Regions from separate parts of the Homo sapiens genome. Here all the other regions are linked to region 3. Evidence: fine-mapped expression QTL. A gene starts in region 3. Each other region holds a variant in brackets. All regions are shown on one strand. Distances are from middle to middle. Region 1 overlaps TRAP1 (TNF receptor associated protein 1). Region 2 overlaps TRAP1 (TNF receptor associated protein 1). Region 3 holds the start of TRAP1 (TNF receptor associated protein 1). Region 4 has its middle 16 kb from the start of SLX4.

Region 1 (2,686 bases), 43 kb before region 3:
TAGTGGCTACGAAAGACACCGGGCCCGAAACGCTGGGACCAGCTCCTGTCTGGCCCTCGTGGAACGTGCCTGCCAACACCTGCTCCACACTGGTACTTCCCGAACCGGGACCCACACCTCATCACGGGATCTGGTTAAAATGCGGCGGGTATCTAGTTCAAATGTTGGGAGACCTGGTTAAAATGTGGGGCGACCTGGTTAAAATGGGGGGGATCCGGTTAAAATGCGGGGAGATCTTATTAAAATGTGGGCTCCCACGCAGGAGCCCTGGGTGGGGCCTGAGACTCTAACAAGCCCCTGGAGGCCACACCTGGCTGGCTCTTTCCAAGATGGATGCCAGCTGTGCAGGACATTAGGAGAGTTTCCAGGCAGCCAAGGACAGAAGAGCCTGGGGGCAGGACGGGCTGGCTCTCAGCCCCGAATAGGTCTCCTTACGGCAGGATTTGCGGGAACTTCAATGTGGTAAAGGAAACCAGGGGAGGTGGAGGGTGTGGAGGAAGCACACAGAGAGGCCAACGGAGAGGCAAGACCACAGGCCCTTCCCAGAGCGCCTGGCAGGACAGCATCCACTGATCCACAGCAGATGATGTAGGCTCTGAGGGCCCTCCCCAGGCACACCCCAGTCCACAAGCCTCCACCCCAGCCTGCACTGAGATGCCCATCAATCCTTCCCTCGCCATGTGTGACCCCTGAGACAGAGGAAACCTCTGTGGTTACCCACCCAGAGGCATCTGTTCTTTTTTTCTTTTTTTTCAGAGATGGGGTCTCACTATGTTGGCCAGCCTGGTCTGCAACTCCTGGGCTCAGGTGATCCACCCTCCTCAGCCTCCCAAAGTGCTGGGATAACAGGCGTGAGCCACCACACCCAGCACTACCTATGTTTTTCATGCCCTCACACTGCCATGTTAATCATGTGACATCTGCAGAGCTGATGCCACAGGGGACAACAGAGTCACCCTGAGGGCCGTGGGACTGCCACAGTGCCTCACCATGTCGGGCACGTAGAAGATGCTGCGGATGTTGAGCGGTGCGTCCGTCTTATAGTGCAGGGTGTAGCGGGGCTTGTCGTGAGCCTGCGCGACGTAGCGGTAGAACTCCTCATGTTGCCACTCACGGACATCCTTGGGGTCCATCATCCAGATGGCCTGGAAACGGAGATCGGCGGGGAGGGCGTCGTGTTCACCACGCACGTCTTCTCCACCACCGTGCAGGCCTGAGCCAGTGCAGCGCCTGGCCCTGGACAGGCTCCTGGGACAGACGGGCGGTGGTCTCAGGCGTAGACCCCTCTCCAGCCCCACCGCTGGGCTATGCCGGGTAGTGCAGGGGAGACACACAAGGCTCTGGGGCAGGAGCTCCTCAGGACAACATGTCAGGAGGACCAGCCGGGACCTGAGGGGGCCTGTGGGAGAGGATGACGCTGCCCAGCAGGGGCGAGCTGACGAATACAGTGTGGGCCGTGAGAGCGATGACGACCCACGCTGCACCGCAGCTGAGCCGCGAGGGGGA[A/T]GTCAGTCACTGAGGACAGCATGCCGTGTGACTCCATCCAGGAGAAACGTCTGGAACAGGCAGCACAATGGACAGAAAGGAGACCGTGGCTGCTGGGACTGGGGGAGGGGCAGTGGGGAAAGGGCTGCTTTTTGGGGTGATGGGATGTTCTGGAATTGATGCGGGGTGGCTGCACAGCTCTGTGGCTGCACTGAACACCATGGCTGCACACTGATGTGGTGAGCCAGCTGGGATGGGCGTTACGCCTCAGTGAACCCTGACCCCTGACCCCGGCTGCCCGGTGCACAGGGGCAGGGCTGTGGTAGAGCTGGGCCCCTGTCTCATCCCCACACCCAGGTCTCATCTCCACAGAGCAGCTCGCCCTGTGACTCTGGGCCGCATCCCCTGGGCTCATCTCTTCTCCGCTGCCCTGAAACGTACAGATTTGTCTCCATGTTTGACCAGTCCCTAGAGGAACTCAGGGCTCACCTGCAAGGTGTTCATCCGCCTTCCATTCAAGTACAAGGGGAAGCTGACGAAGTTGCTGTACTTCGTTACCACATCTGGAAGGGACAAAAGAAAAACCACACTGCATCTACAATGCTTGTGGAAACGCAAGCTTTGCAGCAGCTCCAGGATGAGCGCCAGCCTGCTGGGAAGGGTCCTCCATGCTGTGTACACTTCACAGGTACAGAAACAGGGCACAGTGGGGACACCTGTCCTCCCCCCAGTCTCACGGGGGCAGCAGCGGAGCCCACGTGAGAACCAGAGCTGTGGAGGCCCCGGCTGCTGCGAGACTGCAATGTCAGCTTGTGGCTGGAACATGGCTTTCTGGGCTGACTCCTGGGGGTACTCAGGGCCTCCCTGAGTGTCCAGCAGGACACAAAGAGGGAAGGCCACGCCCACATCCTGGGACAGGACTGCGCCAAACCCCCAGGTGCACTAAAGGCCAAGGGCCACGCAGAGGAAGGAGGAGGAGGTCCGCCTCAGCCAGGCCAGCTTCCTCCCAGTCCCAGCAGGAGCTCGATGCTACGCAGCCCTGGCGGGCAGCCCCCCTCCCAGTCCCGCAGCGGCTCGGCCCTTCACGGCTCTGCCTGTGCACCCTACGTGCAGGTAGAACCAGGGAAAATGCCTGCTGACCTGGTGGCCTCCAGGCCACACATGGATCCCAGAGTGAGCCTGGGCCCGGGCTCCCGCTCAC
Region 2 (2,686 bases), 33 kb before region 3:
GGTGGCACATACCTGTAATCCCAGCTACTCGAGAGACTGAAGGCAAGAGAATTGCTTGAACCCGGGAGGCGGAGGTTGCAGTGAGCTGAAATCACACCACTGCACTCCAGCGTGGGCAACAAGAGCAAAACCCCATTTCAAAAAAAAAAATCTTCCCGGTCATCAAAAACAAGGAAAGTCTGAGAAACTGTCACAGCCAAGAGGAGCTAAGGGGCCAGGACAACTAAATGTCATGTGGGATGCTGGGAGAGAAAAAGGACATGAGGTAAAAACTAAGGAAACCTGAATAGACTTGTGTTAAGAATAATATATCCATACCGGTTGATTAACTGTAACCAATGTAATATACTAACATTTCTTTTTTTTTTTTTTTGAGACGAGTTTCACTCTTGTTGCCCAAGCTAGAGTGCAATGGCGCGATCTCAGCTCACCACAACCTCCGCCTCCCGGGTTCAAGCAATTCTCCTGCCTCAGCCTCCTGAGCAGCTGGGATTACAGGTGCACACCACCACATCTGGCTAATTTTTGTATTTTTATTAGAGATGGGGTTTCACCGTGCTGGCCAGGCTGGTCTTGAACTCCTGACCTCAGGTGATCCGCCCACCTTGGCCTCTCAAAGTGCTGGGATTACAAGCGTGAGCCACTGCACCCGGCCATAAGGTTTCAATCATAAGGGAAGCTGGGTGTTGGAGTAGATGGCAACGCTGTACTATCTTTAAAATTTTTCTGAAAATTGAAATCTGTTCTAAAATATTTACTAAAAAAAAAAAAAAACTATAGATTTTTCAGATGTAGACAGAAATCATCTGTTGCCAGGCGACCCGCACAATGTGATTTTAAAAGGAAATGGTGAGACTAGGCGCGGTGGCTCCCGCCTGTAATCCCAGCACTTTGGGAGGCCAAGGCAGTCAGATCACTTGAGGTCAGGAGTTTGAGACCAGCCTGACCAACATGGTGAAACCCCATCTCTACTAAAAATACAAAAATTAGCCGGGTGTGGTGGCATGTGCCTGTAAACCCAGCTACTTGGGGGGCTGAGGCAGGAGAATCACTTAAATCCGGGGGGCAGAGGCCTCACTGCAGTGAGGTGAGATCATACCACTGCACTCCAGCCTAGGCAATAAAATGAGACTCTGTCTCAAACAAAAATAAAAAGGAATTTGTGAGGGTTTACAACAGGTATATACATAAAATATTTGACATCAAAAGAAAAAGATGATTTTGCCACCGGAATGATACTGTTGTAAGATTCTTACA[A/T]TGAAGTGTTAAATATCAATTCAAGCTAGACAGTGATAAATTAAGGCTGCATATTTTATTCCCTAGAAAATCCCCTAAAAATAACAAAAAGCAATGTAGCTGAGATATCAGTAGATGAGATGGAATGGCATAATACCTCTGAGACCCCACAAGAAAGCTTCCTTTTCTAAAACTTTAGGTAAGAATAATCTATCAATATTAGTTAATTAATTGTAATAAATGGGCTGGGTATGGTGGCTCATGCCTGTAATCTAACACTTGGGAGGCCAAGGCGGGCAGATCACTTGAGGGCAGGAGTTCAAGCCCAGCCTGGCCAACGTGGTGAAACCCCATCTCTACTAAAAATACAAAAATTAGTTGGGCATCATGGCACACATCCGTAATCCCAGCTACTCAGGAAGCTGAGGCACGAGAGTTGCTTGGACCTGGGAGGCGGAGGCTGCAGTGAGCTGAGATCACACTACTGCACTCCAGCCTGGGCGACACAGCCACACTCTGTCTCCAAAAAAAAGGAAAAAAGATGAAACAAATGGACCATGACGCTCCCATCGGCTATTGAGAATAGAAAAACTGGGTCCCAAAGGATATAATGGAGCTCTAAATTACCTGCTCAAATTTTCTGTAAATCTAGAACTGTTCTTTAAGAAAAAAGAAGACAAAAGACAAAACCAAAAATCATTATTGTAACATAAATGGTCTTAGTACCAGGAAGTACTGGCACATGAGGACTGGCCCCTCTGCTAAAGACCAAGAATCATGTCCCCATGACCCCTTGCCCCAGCACATCCATTTTCAATCATCTGCAAGGAACCTCTGTGCTGAAAACAGGAGGAAAGCACAGGGCGCTGCAGCCCTGCCCACAGGGCCCATTCCACAGCCAGGCCAGCTCAGCAAAGGCAGGGAGAGAAGAAACCCACTCCCCACCCAATCCTTATGACCAAGGGCTATGACAAACAGCTGGCACGTACCACGGGGCTCAGTCTGGATTCTCTAAACCCAAGAGGGAGTGCGTAAAGCTGACACCTCACAAAAGCCCCTCCTTTAATTAAAACAGCCATCCCTTCACAAGTCCATTCATTCACGCGTGCCTGCATTCATTTATGTGGCATGACCTTCAGAGCAAGCCAGCACCCTAAAAGGGAATACTCAGATCCCACCGAGGCCAGTCTGTCCACCTCTCCACAGAGACAGACACCCCCGCAATGACGCCGTGACCCTGGGATGACAGGTCCTGAGGCAGCTGTCTTTGGATGCAATGTCTCTCAGGGCCCCTACCTGATCCTCTTTGGCCTAACTTTTCAGCCTTAAAATTTCCACAAGGCTACAGCAGCAGCCACAGCACTGCTTCGTCGGCATTTTGAGGGGAAAACGCAGTTAAAAATATGAAAAGAGTACATTAAAAATAAGATATGTTTAGATATGTTAATAC
Region 3 (2,686 bases):
AGGCTCCCAAAGTGCTAGGATTACAGGCGTGAGCCACCGCGCCCGGCCACAAGGTATCTTTTATAGACCACTGGTTTTGAAAAGACATAAGATTCAGCGTTGAAGAAAATACCTTTGGAATAGGCAGTCTTGATGCCTGCTAAAGGGGATATAAATTGATAAGGCCTTTTTGGACAATTTGGCAGTATCTGCTAACATTTCAAAAATGCATAGGCTCTGAAATATCAATTCTAAAATTCTAATTATGTAAGGCTAAAGAAATACCGCACGTGAACAAATATTTAAGTACTCACCCATTCTATGCAGCATTGTAATAAAAAGTAAAACCTGAAATAACCTTTATTGCGTCCACTAATAGGACAATGTTTAAACAAATGACACGTCCATCATACAGAATACTGTGTGGTCACTGGAAGGCACATGGACCTGTATACACTGACATGAAAAGATGTGGAAAGAATGCTGGGAGCGTTAAAATTTTCTGAAGTACAACGTAGCACAATGCATACATGGTTTAGGCTTTTTAGAATAAAAAATACTTATACGCAGACATTTATATTTACACGTATAACACTGTGTACAGCCCCGAAGCAATGCCGAAACTTTCACTGTTGTTACCTCCGAGTGGGGACTGGGAAAGCAGAGGTTAGGGTCGTTCTCTCTGTTTTACAAACATTTATTGGCGCATCCATCAATTCCAGGCCCCGAGGACACAGCTGCGTCAACGACATCGAGTCCACCTGCTCTGGGGACCCGGATGACTGCTATAGGTTTTGTTCACTGTGGCGTCCCCAGAACCTGCACGGCGCCGGGCACTGAGCGGGCGCTCACATGTGCGTCCAATGAACGAATTAACAAATGAACCCTCAGTGCGCTACTGGGAGGCGGGGAGGGGTAAAGCACGATCCATGGAACTAGCACGATCACCCCGAGTGAGTCCATTCCCCGCAACATGCACCCGCAAAGACTCCGCGCTCCGCAGCGGCTCCACCTGCACGTGCGCTACCTGACTGGACCGAAGCTCCAGGAGGGACGACCCCGCAGCCGCTCCGCCCGACCCCGCGACCCCCCAAGACCCAGCCTCCTTCAGGGCTCCCATGGGCGGGTGGCGAGGGGAGTCCAGCCGAGGAAAAGGCAGCCAAGCTGGAGCTGGCGAGGAGCGGAGCGAAAGTAAACGCGTCTGCCGCGCTTGGCCTCGCCGGACCTCCCACGCCTGTGAAGCAGGTGCCGGCGCCTCGCTCCCCGGAGCACAGGGACGTCCCTGCCGTCTCCGTGGCCCGGCCCGCCCGCTGCCCGTCCAGCCAGGACGCCCTCACCTCCCGGCACGGCCGCCAGCGCCGGCGCCCGCAGCAAAGGCCGCAGGCGGCGGCCCCACAGCAGCAGCGCCCGCAGCTCGCGCGCCATGTCGTACTCCCAGAGCGCCGCGCGCAGCCACGCGGGACCGTACACGATGGGAAGGGGCGGGACGGGGCTGCGCGGGGCGGGGCTTCCTCGGGCGCGGGGCGGTGACGTCACGGCGGGCGCCGGGCTGTCCGGGCAGCTGCCTGCTCGGGCGCGTGGCGGGGTACTACCCGTCTCGTGGACGGTCGGGCCTGGGGGTGGGACCTCCGTGACCTTGGATCGCGTTGTCAAGGGCGACGGGCCTTGCGCGCGGAGGTGGGGGAGGTGGCCCCGCCGCCCCCGGCCCACGCTGGCCGGCTGCGCCTAGCTGTGCGCATTCCTGGAATGGGGCGGATGTCAGTATCCACGCGAGGGTGTGGAGGCGACGCTGGGGAAGAAGCAGTTCCCGTGTCTGCGACCTTTGTGAATCCCGGCCATCCGTCTAGGCCGCTGCAAGTCTCTTGCAAACCAAGACTGGACAAAAAGCTAAAGCGAATGAGGAAGGGGATTCCAGGCTTGACTGGCTACTACTCCAAAACCTGAACCCAGTGACCAATACCACCAGGAAAACTGCGGTTATTCGTTTATTCCACTTCTCTTGTCCTTGTCGAGAAGAGTCAAACTCTAAAGTATTTAGAAGGTTATTCTGAGCCAAATATGAGTGTGCATGGAGGGAGGCACAGTCTCAAAAGGTCCTGAGAACTTGGCCCAAGGTGCTTGGGTTACAGCTTGCTTGGTTTTATACATTTTAGAGAGACATAAGACATCAGTCAATGCATGTAAGACATAGGTTGGTTCCGTGTGGAAAGGCAGGACAACTCAAAGGGTGAAATACTTAGAGGTCATAGGTGGATTCAGATACTTTCTGATTGGCAATTGGTTAAAAGAGTTGAGTTCTGGTTGGGCGCGGTGGCTCACGCCTGTAATCCTAGCACTTTGGGAGGCTGAGGTGGGCGGACTGCCTGCGGTCAGGAGTCCGAGACCAGCCTGGCCAACATGGTGAAAACCCATCATCTCTACTAAGATACAAAAAATTAGCTGGGCAAGGTGGCACGTGCCTGTAGTCCCAGCTCCTGGGGAGGCTGAGGCGGAAGAATAGCGTGAACCCGGGAGGCTGCGGTTGCAGTGAGCCGAGATCGTGCCACTTGCACTGCAGCCTGGGCGACAGAGCTGTGACTCCGTCTCAAAAAAAAAAAAAAAAGAAAACAAAAAAAAGAAAAAAAAGAGTTGAGTTATACAGACCTGGAATCAATAAAAAGAGTGTCTGGGTGAAGATAAGGGGTTGTGGGCACGAGCACGGTGACTC
Region 4 (2,686 bases), 90 kb before region 3:
AAGTGTTTGGAGAGTTCCCTCATTTTTCTGTTACTGGTTTCTAGTTTAATTCCATTATGGTCAGAGATCATACTTTATATGATTTCAATTTTTAAAAATTTGTTTTGTGACTTTTATGGCTTAGAATATAGTCCATCTTGAGTGCTCCAAGCTTGAACACTTGAAAACACTATATATTTCTCTGTTGTTAGGTGGAGTGTCCTCTAGATGTCAGTTAGATCCAGTTGGTTGATGATGGTGTTCAGGTTGCTGATTTTCTGTCTACTGGTTCTATGTATTGAGAAGTGTTGAAGTCTCCAGCTCTGATAGTGGATTTGTCTGTTCTTCATTTGTCAGTTTTTGTTTCATTTATTTTGAATCTCTTTTGTTAGATGCGTATGCACTTAGGATTATGCTGTCTTGATGAATTGACCTTTTTTATCATTATGTAATAGCCCTCTTTTATTTATTTTATTTTATGTTTTTTAGAGACAGGGTCTTGCTATGTCACCCAGGCTGGAGCACGGTGATGTGATCAAAACTCACTGCAGCTTTGAACTCCTGAGCTCCAGTGATTCTCCTGCCTCCGTCTTCTGAGGAGCTGGGACCACAGGCACATGCCACCATGCTTATTTAAATTTTTTTTTTTTTTTTGGTAGAGACAGGGTCTCCCTATGTTGCCCATGCTGGTCTGAAACTCCTAGCCTCAAGTGATCCTCCCATGTTGGCCAAGTGCTGAGACTACAGGCGTGAGCCACTGCACCCAGCCCTCTTTATCACTGGTAATTTTCTTTGCTATGAAGTCTACTTTGCTTGTTTGACATTAATATAGCCAGTCCAGCTGTCTTTTGATTAGTGTTTGCATGACATATCCTTTTTTTTTTTTTTTTAGACAGGGTGGTCTTGCTCTGTCACCCTGGCTGGAGTGCAGTGGCATGATCACGGCTCACTGCAGCATTGAACTCTAGCTCAAGCCATCCTCCCACCTAAGCCTCCCGAGTATGGGACTATGGGTGTGTGCCACCATGGCTGGGTAATTTTATTTTTTATTTTTTTATAGAGACAAGGCCTCACTATGTTGCTCAGGCCCGTCTGGAACTCCTGGGCTCAAGTGATCCTTCCACCTCAGTCTCCCAAAGTGTTACATGAGCCAGTGCACCTGGCTTGTCTGTGTTTTCTTTTGTTTCCTATGACTTTGATATGATATCCATGTTCTTTTGCATGTGGATATCCAGTTTTCTCAGCAACATTTATTAAAAAGACTATCTTTTCCCCGTTGAATGGTCTTGGCATCCTTGTCAAAATCATTTGACCATATATGCCAGGATTTATTTCTGGGCTGTCAACTCTATTCCAATAGTCTGTATGTCTGTCTTCCTGCCAGTACCACATTGTTGTGATTACTGCAGTTTGTTAGTAAGTTTTGAAATCAGGAAGTGTGAATCCTGAATCTGTTTTTCTTTTTCAACATGGTGTTGGCTATCTGGGGTCCGTGGAGATTCCATATGAATTTCAGCATGTATTTTCTATTTCTG[CAAAAAAAAAA/C]AAAAAAAAAAAAAAGTCATTGGGATTTTGCTTCAGTTTACATATGAATCAGTAGCTCACTTTTGGGAGTATTGACATCTTAACAATATTAAGATATCTTGTCTTAACAATATCGTCCAACCCATGAAAGTGTGATGTTTTTCCTTACTTATATCTTCATTAATTTCTTTCAGCGATGTTTTGTAGTTTTCATTGTATGAATCTTTTACCTCCTTGGTTAAAAGTCCTAGGTATTTTATTCTTTTTAATGCTATTGTAAGTGGAATTGTTTTTATAATTTCCTTTTCAAATTGTTCAGTGTTAGTATATAGAAATGCAAATGATTTTTGTGTGCTGACTTTGTATCCTGCTGCTTTGCTGATTCTGTTATTGTAATTATTTTTTGTGTGTAATGTTTAGGCCTAGTTTTTTACATATCATATTAAATCTGTGAATTAATTTTACTTTTTTCTTTCCAATTTGGATATATATTTTTTTCTTAATTGCTATGGCTAGAACTTCCAGTACTAGGTTAAATAGTAGTGGTAAAGGTGAATGTTCTCATCTTAGAAGAAAATTTTTTAGTCATTCACTATTGAGTATGATGTTCATTCAATGTGCATTTCTGTTTTTTTCTTTCTTTTTTTTTTGAGATGGAATCTCGCTGTGTCGCCCAGGCTGGAGTGCAGTGGCGCAATCTCGGCTCATTGCAAACCTCCGCCTCCCGGGTTCACGCCATTCTTCTGCCTCAGGCTCCCGAATAGCTGGGACTATAGGCGCCCGCCACCACGCCCGGCTAATTTTTTTGTATTTTTAGTAGAGACGGGGTTTCACCGTGTTAGCCAGGATGGTCTCGATCTCCTGACCTCGTGATCCGCCCGCCTCAGCTTCCCAAAGTGCTGGGATTACAGGCGTGAGCCACCGTGCCTGGCTCTGTTTTTTTTTTTTTCTTTAAAAACTTTTAGGCTGGGCGCAGTGGCTCACGCCGGTAATCCCAGCACTTTGGGAAGCCGAGGCGGGCGGATCACTTGAGGTCAGGAGTTTGAGACTAGCCTGGCCAACATAGTGAAACCCTGTCTCTACTAAAAATACAAACATTTGCCGGGTGTGATGGTGGGCGCCTGTAATCCCAGCTACTTGGGAAGCTGAGGCAGAAGAATTGCTTAAACCCTGGAGGCGGAGG

What was found. PIP is the estimated chance that this variant, and not a neighbour inherited with it, causes the effect. A credible set is the group of variants that fine-mapping cannot tell apart.
Region 1: its variant is the best candidate, but not a certain one, in a credible set for the expression of TRAP1 in lung (TOPMed, PIP 0.58).
Region 2: its variant is the best candidate, but not a certain one, in a credible set for the expression of TRAP1 in whole blood (TOPMed, PIP 0.57).
Region 4: its variant is the best candidate, but not a certain one, in a credible set for the expression of TRAP1 in whole blood (INTERVAL, PIP 0.89).

Annotation. Positions count from the first base shown.
Region 1 is chr16:3,673,350-3,676,035 of GRCh38, forward strand. It overlaps TRAP1 (TNF receptor associated protein 1), which reads right to left. Exons shown (of 18, transcript NM_016292.3): 8 at 1,975-2,048; 9 at 990-1,145. It also overlaps the pseudogene LOC124903630. Among named protein-coding and RNA genes, the nearest start is that of DNASE1, 20 kb to the left of the region's middle. The variant A/T (reference allele first, on the strand shown) is at 1,507.
Region 2 is chr16:3,683,031-3,685,716 of GRCh38, forward strand. The region is part of intron 4 of TRAP1 (TNF receptor associated protein 1); the gene reads right to left. Among named protein-coding and RNA genes, the nearest start is that of DNASE1, 30 kb to the left of the region's middle. The variant A/T (reference allele first, on the strand shown) is at 1,258.
Region 3 is chr16:3,716,105-3,718,790 of GRCh38, forward strand. It overlaps TRAP1 (TNF receptor associated protein 1), which reads right to left and starts at 1,420. Exons shown (of 18, transcript NM_016292.3): 1 at 1,317-1,420. The coding sequence starts at 1,404. RefSeq lists silencers at 1,021-1,140, 1,161-1,770.
Region 4 is chr16:3,626,423-3,629,108 of GRCh38, forward strand. It overlaps a transcript of DNASE1 not described here. Among named protein-coding and RNA genes, the nearest start is that of SLX4, 16 kb to the left of the region's middle. The variant CAAAAAAAAAA/C (reference allele first, on the strand shown) is at 1,515.